Linked DNA regions of Homo sapiens: all the other regions are reported to be linked to region 4. The links are microRNA targets in miRTarBase. Many come from high-throughput screens and were not tested one by one. Region 4 holds a microRNA gene; each other region holds the end of a gene's coding sequence.
What was found. The annotated mature microRNA hsa-miR-6738-5p reads CGAGGGGUAGAAGAGCACAGGGG and lies in region 4 at 1,908-1,930, opposite strand. An mRNA with a match to its seed (bases 2 to 7 or 8) in the 3' UTR can be bound and repressed. Matches are read on the target gene's strand: a 7mer-m8 pairs with bases 2 to 8, a 7mer-A1 pairs with bases 2 to 7 and ends in A, and an 8mer does both.

Region 1 (3,885 bases), not on the chromosome of region 4:
GCACGCGAGCCCGCAGCCCCCAGGCAACTCGCTGGCTCATGCAGGTGCTCCGCTCCTCCGCGGCCCCGGCCCGCCCCTCTATCTCAGGGACCGGTGGTCCGTTCCCTTCGCGGTCCGGGTTCTGCCTTCTCCAGGGAGGGCTCTCCACCCGTCCCGCCCCAGCCACGCCCCTCCTAGCCCAAGCCCCTGCTCCGGCCTTGACCCCGCCCTCGGACCCGCCTTCCGGGTTTCTGGCCCCGTCTCTGACCCGGCCCTGGCCCCGCCCTCTGGGTTTCTGGCCCCGCCCTGCCCCTGGGCTCCGCCTCTGCCGGTGACTCGCGAGTGCCGCCTGCAGGTAAACTTTGTGAGCTACGTGCAACTGACGTCGCGGGCGCTGCCCAGCCTGACGGACAGCAAGGGCTCCCTGGTGGTGGTGTCCTCGCTGCTCGGTGCGTGCACCCGGCCCCGGCTCTGCGGGACGGGGAGTGGGGAGCTCGATGCGGGTGAGCCTGGAGGGTCTGGGCAGGCTTCCCGGACGAGGGGGAGCCACTCAGCCGCTGCCGTCCGCGCCCCCAGGCCGCGTGCCCACGTCGTTCTCCACTCCCTACTCGGCGGCCAAGTTTGCGCTGGACGGCTTCTTCGGCTCCCTGCGGCGGGAGCTGGACGTGCAGGACGTGAACGTGGCCATCACCATGTGCGTCCTGGGCCTCCGAGATCGCGCCTCCGCCGCCGAGGCAGTCAGGTGAGGCCCGGACAAGCTGGGGGCTGGGCTGGGGGCCATGGCCCAGCCCCAGCCGCAGTCCCCACCGTGCCCTCCTGTCCCCAGGGGAGTCACGAGGGTCAAGGCGGCCCCGGGGCCCAAGGCAGCCCTGGCCGTGATCCGCGGCGGCGCCACGCGCGCGGCCGGCGTCTTCTACCCGTGGCGTTTCCGCCTGCTGTGCTTGCTCCGGCGCTGGCTACCGCGCCCGCGGGCCTGGTTTATCCGCCAGGAGCTCAACGTCACGGCCGCGGCAGCCTGAGCACCGGGGGGTGCCCCTCCAGTCCCAGACGGCAATGTTCCTCCCTCCAACTGTCCCTGGAGCCAGAACACTCACAGAGACACCCCTGAGAGGGTGGCCACAGCCCAAGATGAAGTCATCAAGACAGAAAAGCAAAACCGAGAAAAACGACGGGCACCTGGAACCAGTCACGGCTTGGGAGGTGCAGGTGCCCCGTGTTAGGCGCCTTTGTCGGGGACTTGCAAGGCCTCACCTGTTTGGCCATGATTGATGACGTGACTGCTTCCATTTTGCAGATGAGGAAACTAAGGCTCAGAGAGGCCACGCCACCCTTGAGCCACCCATGGACCCCTCTCCATCTCCTGCCTGCGCCTTTAAGTCCCTGATTTATTCTTTCCATTCATTCCATCTGGGAGGAACCCCCCCAACTCCTGCCAGCTTCCCCTAGCTGGGGTCTCTGGTACTCTTCACACCTGCAGGGGCGTCTACACTGTTCGTCTACCTGGTGGCAGGGTCTGAGCGGGAGGAGGAGGGAAAGAGTGTGTTCTGAGCTGGACCCAGCCTCTTGTTCGAGAATAAAAACTCTTCTTCTCTTGCATATCTGTTGTTCAAATTCCTTGGTAATTCCAATTTGCTAGCAGCCAGCGGGCAGCGGGAGGGGGTGTGTGTATCAGGGGCCTTGACTCTCAATCCCATTTCACAGGTGGGGAAATGGAGGCTGAGAGGGCCAGGAGCAGTGGCTCACGCCTATAATCCCAGCACTTTGAGAGGTCAAGGTGGGCAGATCACTTGAGGTCAGGAGTTTGAGACCAGCCTGGCCAACATGGTGAAACCCTGTCTTTATTTATTTATTTATTAGACGGAGTCTCACTCTATCGCCCAGGCTGGAGTGCAGTGGTGCGATCTAGGCTCACTGCAACCTCTGCCTCCGGGGTTCAAGCGATTCTTGTGCCTCAGCCTCCCAAATAGTTCAGATTACAGGTGTGGGTCACAACGCCTGACTTTTTGTATTTTTAGTAGAGACGGGGTTTTACCATGTCGGCCAGGCTGGTCTCGAACTCCTAGCCTTAGGTGATCCCCCTGTCTCGGCCTCTCAAAGTGCTGGGATTACAGGTGTCAGCCACTGCACCCGGCCACAAACAAATATTTTAATTAAAAAATTAGCCAGGCGTGGTGGCATGTGCCTGTGGTCCCAGCTAAGGAGGCTAAGGCAGGAGGATCACTTGAGCCCTGGAAGTCAAGGCTACAATAAGCTATGATTACAGCAGTGCACTCTAGCCTGGGCGACAGAGCAAGACCCTGTCTGGAAAAAACATGAAAGCGCTAACCCTAATTAGAGCAGCCCTAAATTGAGACTCTCTTCTTGTATATTAGTAGCATTAAAGGAGAAAAACTGGAAACTTGTGTGTTTCTGCCACCCGATTCAGTTATTTAGCGTCCCGTCCCTACACCACCTAAATTACATCAGATGTCCGCAAGGGGCACTATTACACGTTGCTGTATTCAGACCTAGTCTAGAGCTTGACCAATTGATAACAAAACCAATACCTTTTTTTTTAAATGGAGTTTCGCTCTGTCGCCCAGGCTGGAGTGCAGTGGTGCGATCTCGGCTCACTGCAACCTCTGCCTCTTGGGCTCAAGCAATTCTCCTGCCTCAGCCTCCTGCGTAGCTGGGATTACAGGAGCATGCCACCACGCCTGGCTATTTATTTATTTATTTATTTATTTATTTATTTATTGAGACGGAGTCTTGCTCTGTCGCCCAGGCTGGAGTGCAGTGGCACGATCTCGGCTCACTGCAAGCTCTGCCTCCTGGGTTCACGCCATTCTCCTGCCTCGGCCTCCCGAGTAGCTGGGACTACAGGTGCCCACCACCACGCCTGGCTAATTTTTTGTATTTTTAGTAGAGACGGGGTTTCACCGTATTAGGCTGGTCTCGAGCTCCTGACCTCGTGATCCACATGCCTCGACCTCCCAAAGTGCTGAGATTACAGGCGTGAGCCACCGCGCCCGGCCTAATGGGCGTTTTAACAGTTCATACAGTTTGGTATTATTATTCCCGCTCTACAAGTGAAGAAATTCTGAGAGGTGATGTCGTCGATGCAGGGTCGGCCCGAAATAGGCGGAGTTGGGATTCGAACTCATTTCACAGGCAGAGGGAGGAGAGCAGCCATAGCCACCTCCACTGGTTCCGACTCCAGCTCCCGGGCTCGCAGGAGTAAACGCGCATGCTCAGGGAGCTCGGTCGCGCATGCTCAGCGCAACGGCGGGGAAGACTCCAGCCGCCAGGGGGAGCGCGTGCCGTTCTTGCCTCTCTGGCCTGCGCCTCCTGAGCCGAGTAGATATCCCGGAGTTCCGCGCGGCGCCAGCCCTTCCGCCACGGCCGTCTCTGGAGAGCAGCAGGTAAGTGGTTTCCCGCACTGCCGGTATCCGCCGCCATCCGGACTCCCGGGTCCTCTGTGCAGGTTGGAGGATGGTTGGTTGTGGCGAGCGAGGCTGAAGGAGCCGGGACGCGGGGCTCTGGGCCTCGGGAACTGAGCCGGTACTCACCTCCGCCCCTTCTCCCCGTCGCTGTCCGCAGCCATGGCCCTACGCTACCCTATGGCCGTGGGCCTCAACAAGGGCCACAAAGTGACCAAGAACGTGAGCAAGCCCAGGCACAGCCGACGCCGCGGGGTGAGTGCGGGTGCCGCGCGGAGGTTGTCGGGGGTTTCTTGGAGGGCGGAGGGCATGGCTTGGGCAAAGGCTCTCGACCTGAAAGAACGCGCGTTCGGGCGCAGAACTAAGGGGGGCTTGAATGGAAGAGATGGGGTGGGGGAGTGGGACTTCCTGCCTGGTGCTCGAAGGCGGGCACCCATCTGGGTTTTTCCCAACCGTGCAATCCACGCTGGGGCAGAGGGAGCACCTT
Region 2 (3,866 bases), not on the chromosome of region 4:
GCCCTAGCAGCCTGGGGACGCTCAGGCCCTGCTTCCCCACTTCCCAGGGGCCACCAAATGGCCTCGGTGGATGCCTTTGCTCTACTTAAGACGTTCTTTTTGGGACTTACCTCCTAGCCAAAGCAGGTGTTTTCTTGTATTTGATAAACCTGGCAATTTATCCAGCAGGAGTCAGGAGACAGAAGCGGGTTACTGGGCCCAGGGGCTCTGAGGGAGCCCCTTTCCGAACAGGGCAAAGCAGGAGGGGCCCTTCCCAAAGCCACTACTGTGACCTGCTGTTCTCATCCGCTGTGGACCGTGCCCCCAGTCCCTGGTGACCAGAGAACAGGCCCTCAGCCTCTGCCTCCCCAGTGACCCCAGAACGGGGCTGGAATCAGCTACTTTTGCTCCCCACATTCCTGCACATTGCCCGGGTCAGCTCACCCTTGAGAACCTAGAGAAGGTTCTTGGGTCCTGGCTCCACACGGCTCAGGGTCACAGGCCGCCCAGGCTGGGGGCTGAGGCTCTCCCGGTCCCCCTGGCCTGTGCTCTTGCTTCTGCGAAAGCGCCTGGCTGGGAGGCGCTTGCTGGGCTGGCTCAGGGCACACAGGGAGGGCTTTGTGGCCGGGACATGCAACCCTTTTGGGCCCTGTCCCTTCCTGGGCCTCTGGCTACCGGTTCCAAGACAAGTTCCGGCATGAGCCAGGCATGGTACCTGCTCAGATGACCAAAAACTCTTTCAAAATCTCATGGTTATGAGCCCAGAGCAGTGGATCCAGGACCCAGGCCTCCTCTCCTTGCCCTCCTCTCCCTGCCCTGCTCCGAGTCTGAGCCGACCCCTAGGACCACGTCCCTTCATCCCTCTTTGCAGTCCCCGCAGAAGCTAGACAGTGCAGAACCCCACACGGCAGAATGCAGCCCCGGGGTCCTGTGCTCGCCACCTCCCGGCTCCATCCACCACCCCCTTTCCACGCCCTTGGCAATGAAGCAGTGAAATCAGAGAACGCTACCGCTAACAGGAAGAATGCGCTGCGTCTCAGAAGCCAGGAAACCACGTGGGTCAGGGCCAGCCTGAGCAGACCAGGCCAAAAGGCGACCTCGATTTGTGACCAACACGTGGTGCAATCCCAGCACGCGGCGCTCCCTGCAGACATCAGCTTGTATTGAGGAGGCCAACCTGCAGTGGCCCAGAAGCAAACAGAGGTCTCCCATCAGGGTGGCCACAGGCAGCCCTGAGGACATATAGTCACCACGCGGGAGAGAGCAGCAGCAGGTAATCACAGAGGCCCCCCGTGACGGGCGCTCCCGGGAGGGCGCCGGCTCAGGCCACACAGGCACCGGTGTCGGGGAGCCACCTCCAACCCCCACCCCCCGTTCTCTCACGCCATGCACGCACACACCAGGCACCACGGAAAGAAAAGGCCCACAGACAACAGCAGGCGACACAAGTGTGGAACGGGGCGCAATCTCTCACCCTCCACGGACGTAACTGCACCCAGGACAGCCGGCTGTGTTCATCCTGCCCCCGTTTCTCTGAAACCTCACCCAGGGCAACAGGTACGGACTTCCACAAAGAGCTTATTTCCCATGGAAAGGTTAGTGCCATAGAAACGACTCAATTCGGGGGGCTTAGAAAAACAACGGGACACGGGAAGGAAACCGAACAAGGGGTTTTCTCTATCTAGGTGGAAGGAGGGGGCCCACAGAGGTTCTGCACTTGTCCTGGGGGACGGGGACTCTGATGGGGGCCACGGGCGACCCCACTCCACTGCACAGCACGTGTGTCCTCCCGCACTGCCTCGGAATCACTTTGAAAAGTGTTCTCCCTTCTTCTTCAGGGAGACACCTGTCCAGCCACCTCCCTCAAATGCCCTCCAGGCACCTGGGTCCCTCTGCAGCTCTCCCGCCAGGGCCTGGGCAGAGGCTGCTTTGCTGGTGAGAGGCTGTGATGCGGAGGACGGGCGATTTCCAAGAACCACTGCTCCTCAGGCACTTCCGGAGCTCTGCGTCGAATCTGTCGCTGTTTCTCGTTGTGGTCCCGGACAGGAGAGCCAGCGCCGGAGCGGCCAGCAAAACTGACAGCTGACCTTTACGAGGACGCACTTCGCATCTCCAAGACACACTGAAGGACTCCTCTCTCCTTCCTGAGCTGGGCTCAGCATTAGACAGCTCTGGCTCAACGCTGCTTGGTGACAAAGATCCAGGAACCACTGGCTGTCTTAATGGAAGTGCAGGAGGGGGCTTCCTCAGGGACCCCAGAACCACCCAACTGGCTGGAGCATCCCGTCCTCCGGTTCTCACCGTGTGGCAAACAAAACCAGTCGCGTTGGCGGGGGCTGGGCGTGGAGGCACAGGCCTGCTCACCACTGCTGCTGGGGTGGGGTCTCCTGCTCACGGACAGCCCAGGGAGGGGCCCTGGAGTTTCAGGCAGGAGAAATGGTTCCAATTGAAAACAGCAGATCAATGTGGGAGTGGTGAGGACTCTGCAACTGGGTGAAAAAGCAGCTGGAGCAGATGGCGTTTGGCACTGTTAGGTCCCCATGTGGCCGTCAGCACCGGGACATCGGAGCCACGGATAATTCGGGAAGGTCTGGTCTGCAGAGCAGCGGCCCCAATCGTCCCCAGCAGCGCGATGTCTGCGGCCGGCGGATCCAGGCTCACCTTTCATCCTAGGAACCTTCCACCGCGAACGCCAACCCAGGAAGCCGCTGCTCTTACTTGAAGTTATCAGACAGAGCGGCAGGTTTACTCTTCGAGGGGATTAAACCCAGCGGGAACCCTGGACCTACGGCCGGTCATCAGACGTCAACAGGTAAAATCCTCAAAAATACATGATCCCTTTTGTGTCTGTCTCAGGTGTACAATGAAGTCTGAATTCCATGTTTAAACAAACAAAGAAAAACTTGGGGTCTGAAGTGAAATCGGACACCCCCCGAGTTAATGCCAACACTCTCTATGTCACGTTCCGGGCGGAGAGGCTGTTAGGTGGTCCGTGGCTCGGCAGCTCCTGGCTTCCCAACAGGCATCTGTCCGGTGCCCGGGCCTCCCCGGCAGCCTTGGTGTGTGCCTTGCTGCGTTTCTGTCTGTCCTCCCGGACAAAGGCGGCTGGCCGTGCAGCGCGGAGCGGAGGGGCTGTCTTGACACATTCCTCAAGATGCTGAGCTCCAACCTCCTCCCCATGCCCGACAGGGAGGCCTGGGGAGAGGAGGTGGTGCCGAGGGAGAAGGAAAGGAAAGCAAAGAATTCCCAGAATCATACAATCAGTTGTCTGAACTTGTTTATGTGTTTTTGTCTTAAACCACGGGAAGGCAGGCGATCAAATGGAAAGGGCTGGGTGTGTCCAGGTGCCGCCGATGCCCACAGGCCGCCGCGGGCTGTTCTCCTCCGTCTGTGGGTGCGGCCGCCTGAGCTGCCGGGTCCAGCTTCGGGGTCGCCGCTGGGTGAGTCCCACTCCCCCGCGTTGCAGGTGACCTCACTCCCCGGTGCCTGGCCCCTGGGGGCCGGCAGCTGCGATCACTCCAGCCGGTGTGGTTACAGCACCACTGGGCTCCTCCACCCGGGACCTTTTGACCTCGGGCTCTCCAGTGGAAGAGGCGGAGGCAGAGGCGGTGGTGGCAGTGGCTGGGGTGGTGGTGGCCGTGGCCGCGACGGCTGCTGCTGGCTCCTTGGGCCCCACCTCGCACACCCGGGTGACCACCACCGGCGCGGATGAACTCGCTTGGGTCGCAAGGAGCTGCAAAGGGCTGGTGAGGGCTGGAGTGGAGGAAGAAGAGGGTTACTCTGGGGTCTGGTTAGGACCCAGCTGCTTTTTTCAAGTCCCCTATACAGGGGCTAAGCCACCAAGCCGGAACCGGAGGTCAGTGCACCCCTGCCAGGCAGGACGGCTA
Region 3 (3,885 bases), not on the chromosome of region 4:
TTTTCTTTATAAATTACCCAGTCTCAGGTAGTTCTTTATAGCAATGTGAGAACAGACTAACACAGAAAGCATGGCTGCATTTGGTCATGGTAAATTCTCGTAACACAGATAAATATAATGTTAAAAAAAAATGTTAGAATTTTAGTATTTACTAACAAGGATTTTTTAAAATTTGAACTAGAGGAATATTAAAAACGAGATTAAGCAGGCTAATTGTTATATTTATGTCCTGTTTCTCCAGGGTTATGGGTTGAAAACTACTGATACAAACTTTATCTTTTCATTGTTTCTTTACTTTTTTAGGCCAGATGGGGACTGTGCATCTTCCCTTAATGGTGGAAATATTAAAGGCATTGAAGGACATTCACCTGGAAACTTACCAAAATTCTGCCATGAGTGTGGGACTAAATACCCTGTAGAATGGGCCAAATTTTGCTGTGAATGTGGCATTCGAAGAATGATTCTATGAATAGAATCTCAAAAAAAAAAAAAAGCCAAGTTCAGAGTTTATGATTATTGCTGCTTGGACAGCTAGAGCACATCCTCTAGTTAGTTTGTGCTAAAAATACTCGAAATACCATTTCCAGTTAATTTTGAAGTGTAATCTTTTGGCTATATAATGTGTGTATGTTTATATGTGTACATATACTGTATATAATAAATATCTGATACCCCAGACTGTGTCATTCAAGGAAATATTCACTTATCTGTCAGAAAATAATTTCAAATGGAACAATTAATTTAGGTGTTACTTTTCTGTTGTTGTTAAAGCACGTTAAGTACATTTCCACAAACTCTCATACTCTAGTGCTTAGCCCTTCAAGCTTTAGGATAAGTATAACTTTGAGCAAAAAATTTGGATAAACATTTGTATTATTGGTGCCTATCTTCAGATAGTATCATAGTAGGATAGATGCTGGGAATTTTGTAATTAAAGAGAACAGTTTTAGTTACCATTAGGTATGTTAAGGTCACTCCTGTAGAGCATGTCAACAAATTATTTCATAAATCCGAAAAACTAAGAGAAAAAAAAACCCCTCTATTAGTTACGTAATTTAAACATCTTACTTGTTTTGTAAAAGTGTAATTATGCAATTTCCTTTTCAAATACACAAGACTAAAAATACAAATCTATCTTGTTCTATTTATAACTGATTTTTTTTAGTTCTGTATGTATTCGTTGAACATATTTTTTTACTTCCAATTGTTTTTCCAGATTTCACTTTTCCTCTTTTTCCATAACCCGTGAAGATAGTTTTAATTTGCTAGTTCATTTTTTGCTGTATTTGAAAATGTAATTATTTAATATAGAAGGCACAGAATTCCCTGCAAAATCTTACATGTTTAAAAACATATAATTTTTTGTATCTGAATTTAGAATAAATCATTTTAATGCATCTTAAATCACGTCACCTAATCATAATAGTTGTGGTAACTAATCATTAGTGCAGAGCATGCAGATAAAAAATATTTGAATTTTTTTTTCTTGGAAGTACATGTAGTTATGAGTAGGTTAAGAGAATATCTAATTTTCCTACTCTTTTTTTCATCTTTAGCATTTAATGTTGAAACACCATTCACGTCACATTAAGGACCCACTGAAAATGTATTGTTTTAATGCATAATTGACTTACCTAATTAAACATACACACAAATTTAATTATTTTTTTCTCTTTAACCTGATCACGACACAGCTCTTAATCATTGTCACTTTCAGTATATCATAGTAGTTAGTAGTAGATTGCCTTGATGGCAGTAATTCTGTAGTAATTTCTATTCAATCAAACCTAAGAGAGCTTTGATCTTACTGTAAAGGTACAAACAAATCTCTTATATAATTCCTAGCTTTTTTTTTTGTTTATGATTCTGATCAACTATAAGACACAATGTAAAGAATTGTGGCTTATAATTTATCTGAAATTTATTAGCTTAGTTTAGTTTGGGCAGGAGTTACAAACTTAATAGGAATTGTCATTTTACTTACAGTTTATTTCCTGATTAGTTGTTAATTTTTTTCCCCTCAGTTATCTTTATTCAGTCTTATTGGTCAAAACAAAGAAACAAATAGTCCATCAACTAAAATAAGCTGTAATGAATTTAGAAGATGAATGCATATATTAGATTTCCATTTAAATCACTTCTGTTATAAATCATATAAAGAACTTTAAACTTGTTTTATCTAATACTGAGCACTGTTTTTTTGTCAAGTATTTTTTTAAGACCACATAATTCTTTTTGTCTGCTCAAGGAAAGGATAGATAAATAATTGGCACACATTTGTTTCTCACTGAATTTTACAGTAGTAAATTAATGTTATAATGTACCACATGGAGATGAGTTGGTAAGAAATCATCTAGTTCCAGAGCCCAGAGATTATAAACAGTAGGTGAAATAGATTTATGACTTACGAAATATGTTGTGACAATATATTTAAATGCATTTTTATATTACTTGCATATTCTCACATTGATTTGTGCAATAGTTCAGTTTTAAAAAAAATCTTCCTATGCATCATGTATTTTATTTTTATTTATTTTCACAAGTATTTGACAGTATGGTAGAATAAAAGATGATTGTAAGATTAAAAATGTAAAAATTGCTTATGTATTATTCTGAATTGTGTTAGGTTGAAAAAGATGATTGTGGTGACTATTATTTCTTGTCCACTATTTGTTTTTTGTTTTTTCACCAATAATGTCTTCATATTTGAACCTATTCAATAAAGACATGAAGCATAAAAATGCTAGTTCGTATTCACTGATGTCTTTTAGCCATACATAGAAAGATAGGAACCTAATGAAATATAAATAAAATATTTGAAGTCAAAAATAACAGATTTTTACAAATAAAAAGTAGCTTTTCATTGGCTGTATTCTTATGCCATCAGCTTTTTAAAATGTATTACCATTTTATTGAAGTGTTTTCTGACATCAAAGTATTAGAAATGTTTTTGTTACAAGTTTTTTAAGGCATTATCTTCATAGACTATTTAGCAGTCACAAACATTTGTGATGTCAAGGTTAATAGGAAACATGGACGTTTCTAGTTAAGAGCTATACAGTTTAATGGCAAAGTTATTTGTGATGAATAATATTTTAGACCACATTTAAAATTAAAAAGGAATTTAGTGAAATTTCAGATTAGACATGTTTGATTTTTTTCCTTAGGTTAGAGGTGAACATTTAACCATGAGTAGAAGCTCTGGAGATGAAAAAATATTAGAAAACACAGATAACAAAGAATCATCAGAACACTTGGGTATTTATTTTCATTGAATGTGTATGTATTTTACATGGTAAGTATTTTTTAGTATTGAGGTACGTTGATTTTTTTCAAATGACTATATTATTAAATAGAGCTGTGGAGAAATTAAAGCCACAATTTTTATTTTCATTTAGAAAAATTTCAGTTAAATGTTACTCAATGCTCCTCATTTTAAACACAGTTTTGCTTAGCTCATATGTGAATTGCTTTTTAGCCACTAGAGGGTGCATTTGGATAATTATTTCATAATATTACGGCCTATTCTTTTTAAGGGCCTCTCAGCAATATACATATGATTTTTTGACAACACGAAACTACAGAGATTTATAAGGGTAGTTTTCTTTGTTTTGTTGTGATTTTAATAATGTGTTTATATTTTAGAAATTTTGCCCAGCTCAACTGGGGCACCAGGATTGCAGTAATTGATAGAGATATTTAATAATTACACTTCATGATATTTTGTTAGCAAAATTATGCATCTCAAGCATATCACTTATGGACAATACATGGATTAGTAAATACTCCTTGAAATATTACTTTAATATTTCATCTTAGTTCTACCACAGTTTAGTAGGTTATAGTTTCATTTAAGATAAGGATCTTTTTTTCCCCAATCGTCTA
Region 4 (3,885 bases):
AAACCCTATCTCTTCTAAAAATACAAAAATTAGCTGGGCGTGGAGGCATGTGCCTGTAGTCCCAGCTACTCGGGAGTCTGAGGCAGGAGAATCACTTGGACCTGGGAGGCGGAGGTTGCAGTAAGCGGAGATCTCACTACTGTACTCCAGCCTGGCGACAGAGTGAGAATTCCATCTCAAAAAAAAAAAAAATTTAGCCAGGCGTGGTGGCTCATGCCTGTAATCCCGACACTCTGGGAGGCCAAGACAGGTGGATCGCGAGGTCAGCCGTTCAAGACCAACCTGGCCAACATAGTGAAACCCCATTTCTACTAAAAATACAAAAATTAGCTGGGCGTGGCGGTGGGCGCCTGTAATCCTAGCTACTTGGGAGGCTGAGGCAGGAGAATCGCTTGAACCTGGAAGGCAGAGGTTGCAGTGAGCCAAGATCACGCCACTGCACTCCAGCCCAGGCAACAGTGCAAGACTCCATCTCAAAAAATAATAATGAAATAAATTAATTAAATAAAATAAAAAAATAAATAAATGAATTTTTTTTTGTAGAGAAGGTGGGTCTCACTATGTTGCCCAGGCTGGCCTCAAAATTCTGAGCTCAAGCGATCCTCCTGCCTTGGCCTCCCAAAGTGTTAGGATTACAGGCCTGAGCCGCCATGCCTTTTTAAAAAAGAATCTGTTTTTACTTCTAAAGGTTGGGAATCACCAACCAGTTGGAGGAGAGAGGCCCCTCCTGCTTCCTAGACTTCCACCACCCATTCATCATCAGACAAAACAGGAAGTCCCTCCCTAGAGTTACTACAAGCCTCACAGGTCAGTTAGGGCCCATTTGGAAGCCACAGCCCAATGGCCTGTACCCAGGCTGCACTCTACCTCTGGTCCATGTCTCCGCCAGGGTCTCACCTCGTGGACTGTGGGGCGGAGACAGACGGCTGCTACCTTCCTCCTCGCTGCCAGTGTCAGGGTCACTGCTGTCTTGCAGCCGCTCTTCGGGGCTCCCCAGTTCCTGCCTCTCTCGGTCCTCAAAGTTTCGATGGACAGAGCGAGTAGTGACAGGTAGATCCAGGCGGTCAGTGCCTCGGCTGGGCTGTGGACAGTGGGCAGGAAGAACAGCAGGTCAGGGACTGAGTAGTGTGAAGATTGGAGGTTCTGCTTGGCTGAAGGCAGCAGCTCTCCCCCCTGGGGCTCACCCATGAGTCCCCTTCAGGAGATCCACCACCAACTGGCCTCTTTCAGCACCACGACCCGAGTTAATTTCCTCCACCCCTGCACCCATCTACATTTCTTTTCAGTTCTCCAACCAGTATCTCAATATCCTTCAAGTCAGTTGACTGATTGCATTTGGGCTCAAATCCCCAATGGCCCAATTTCTTTCGGGCTCCATGGACCCTTATGTCCACCCCAGGTCCATTCACCACTGCAGGCCACCTTACCTGTGGGGGGTTGAAACTCAAGTACAGGGCATCGCCTGCGGGGAGGCTGCGCCGCCGAGGATCCACAGGTCTGCGGGCCCAGGGGGCCTCAGCTGGGAGTGGCTCGGTCTGGCCCAGGGCGGCCAGCTGCCTTCGAGCCTCTTCGGCCTCACGCTCCAGCAGTGCCCGGGCCTGCTCACTCTCCCGGAGCCGGGCCTCCAGGCTGCCAGCTTCGGTTGCCCGTTCTTCACCTAGCCGCCGGCAGCGCCGTAGCTCCTCCTGCAGCAGCGCATGTTGCCGCTGCAGTAATGCCAGTTCCGTGGCCTGCTTTTCAGGGGCCACAGGGGCAGCCCCAGCCCTGCCAGCCTCCCCATCCCGAGAGTTGGCTCGGCACAGCTTCTCCCGCCGCTCAGGGCCCTCAGGGAACCGGGCTTCCATCAGAGTGTCCTGCTGGGCCACAGCTGCCTGGGAGTAGAATGCAGGCAGAAGGGTTTATCAGAACCCCTGTGCTCTTCTACCCCTCGCCTTCACCCTCCAAGGCCCAGATCATCGCTCCTGGAGAGCTTGGATTGGGAGGGTATTTAGAAAGGCCTGTTGGGATGACCATGCCCCACCTAAACAGGCATCTCTAGCCTGGCTCCTCCCCTTCCCCATTCAAGCCCTTGTCCTACTGACCTGTAGGCCATGTAGAAGTCCATAGAGATTGACCAATCGCTGTAACGCCTCCTGAGGACAGACAGGGTGGGAACAGGGCCCCAGCTTTAGGATGGGAGAACTGCCCAAAAGTTGAACAAGGGTGGGTGTGGGGACAGTAGGATCCGGAGACATACTTGAATGTAGACGCTTTCCCCACCCCACTCCAAACTGGGCTCTAACTACTCAGACTAAGAACATCCTCCCTTCAGTCTCCTATACCATCAATTCCCATCTCACCTCTTGCGGTGATCTCAGCTGATTTCCATTTCGATCCTGCAGAAATGGGCAAGAATGGGGAGTCAGCAGGCACACAAATCCTGGGTGCCTGCCCCTGACAGCTTTGTGTTGAGGATCCAGAGGCTGGCTGTCCCTCTCCCACCCTCTTGCCAAGTCCCAGAACCTCTTGAGGACCTACCCTCTGGCTAGAGTCTGAGTCAGCTCTGCAGAGTTCAATGGAGCCATTGAAGGTTCTGGCCTCACCATCTGTTGAGAAGGAGAAAAGGATGGCTGAGCTCACTTCCCTGGGGCCCTGATACCACTTGATCCCTGGTACCACTCTACTAACTTTGGCCCCTCCCACCTACTACCTTGGTCCCCTGCCCTGGTACTCACTGGCAGTGACCCCAGGACTCGTGTTACCACCGCTGTCTGGTTCCAAGGGCAGGGCTGGCTCTCGGGGTGTCAAGAGCAGTTCCACTCCTGGCCCCACCAGCAGGTCTTTCAGACCCTCCACTGTGGGGAAAGAGGAAGAGGTGAGAACAGGAATGACACAGGACCCTGAGGGGAATGCCATTCACCCCCACATGTGGGACACTTGGGCATCTGGGGGAATGCCCCCTGCACTGGCAGTGGGGTTTCACTCACACAACCACTGATGAGGTAAAGGGCAGTAAATGCCTACGAGGCAGCAGAGTCCATGCAGCATGGACGATATGGAGCAGCAGCAAGGACCACACCTCCTCCCCTGCCTTTCCCAGGAACTGGCCCAGAAGAGGCACTCAGGGCCGTTTATGGTTTATAGGGTTGGCATCCCACTTGTCTGTGTTTGTCCATGTCTAGTCACATGTCCACATTCTGTGACGGTGAGTGCTTGAGCCTGGACTCTTCCCTGGGAGCTCCCTCACCCTCACGGATGGCATCCTGCAGCAGCCGCTCGCCACGAGGGGACTCAAGGGACTCAGAGCGGAAAAGGCCCCTGGGCAGGGTGGGCAGGGCCATCCCACTGCCACCATCCTCTTCGGCCTGGAAATGGGTCATCTCAGCAAACAGCCCGACCTTCTCTCGCAGCAGCTCCACCAGTGCCCGGTCCTTCTGCTGCAACTCCACTGCAGATAAGGAACAAGTGAGGACATGAGAGGACGTAGGGGTATGCAAGAGCGCCAGTAGAGGACAGCCCTAGGGGAGAGGGGTAGGGTGGGGCAGTGTGGCAGACTTAATTTTGTTATTTTGGCATTTATAAAAAAGAAAAAGCTTTCTGTTGGTCAGGTGTAGTGGCTCACACCTGTAATCCCAGCACTTTGGGAGGCCAAGGCAGGTGGATCGCTTGAGGCCAGGAGTTCAAGACCAGCCTGGCTAACATGGCAAAACCCTGTCTCTACTTAAAATACAAAAATTAGCCAGGTGTGGTGGCACGCGCCTGTAGTCCCAGCTACTCAGGAGGCTGAGGCACAAGAATCGCTTGAACCCAGGAGGCAGAGGTTGCAGTGAGGCCGAGATCACACCACTGCACTCCAGCCTGGGCGACACAGCAAGACTCTGTCTCAAAAAAAAAAAAAAAAGATTT

Region 1: the mRNA of HSD11B1L is a reported target of hsa-miR-6738-5p. Seed matches in the 3' UTR shown: 7mer-m8 at 1,325-1,331.
Region 2: the mRNA of FOXK1 is a reported target of hsa-miR-6738-5p. The part of its 3' UTR that is shown has no 7-base or 8-base seed match.
Region 3: miRTarBase lists ZC2HC1A as a target of hsa-miR-6738-5p. Seed matches in the 3' UTR shown: 7mer-m8 at 1,034-1,040 and 7mer-A1 at 2,017-2,023.

What each region holds. Positions count from the first base shown.
Region 1 is chr19:5,686,948-5,690,832 of GRCh38, forward strand. It overlaps HSD11B1L (hydroxysteroid 11-beta dehydrogenase 1 like), which reads left to right. Exons shown (of 8, transcript NM_198706.3): 5 at 1-44; 6 at 335-428; 7 at 556-721; 8 at 806-1,575. The coding sequence ends at 998. RPL36 (ribosomal protein L36) reads left to right here and starts at 3,348. Exons shown (of 4, transcript NM_033643.3): 1 at 3,348-3,380; 2 at 3,559-3,653. The coding sequence starts at 3,561. RefSeq lists silencers at 1-71, 142-291, 532-591 and enhancers at 769-1,268, 3,020-3,069, 3,125-3,650, 3,651-3,885.
Region 2 is chr7:4,762,050-4,765,915 of GRCh38, reverse strand. It overlaps FOXK1 (forkhead box K1), which reads right to left. Exons shown (of 9, transcript NM_001037165.2): 9 at 1-3,732. The coding sequence ends at 3,452. Among named protein-coding and RNA genes, the nearest start is that of AP5Z1, 12 kb to the left of the region's middle.
Region 3 is chr8:78,717,025-78,720,909 of GRCh38, forward strand. ZC2HC1A (zinc finger C2HC-type containing 1A) reads left to right here. Exons shown (of 9, transcript NM_016010.3): 9 at 304-2,741. The coding sequence ends at 469. It also overlaps a transcript of IL7 not described here. Among named protein-coding and RNA genes, the nearest start is that of ZC2HC1A, 53 kb to the left of the region's middle.
Region 4 is chr1:155,949,402-155,953,286 of GRCh38, forward strand. It overlaps MIR6738 (microRNA 6738), which reads right to left and starts at 1,935; the gene lies at 1,872-1,935. ARHGEF2 (Rho/Rac guanine nucleotide exchange factor 2) reads right to left here. Exons shown (of 22, transcript NM_001162383.2): 15 at 3,227-3,427; 16 at 2,715-2,834; 17 at 2,518-2,585; 18 at 2,340-2,375; 19 at 2,082-2,132; 20 at 1,428-1,871; 21 at 898-1,081.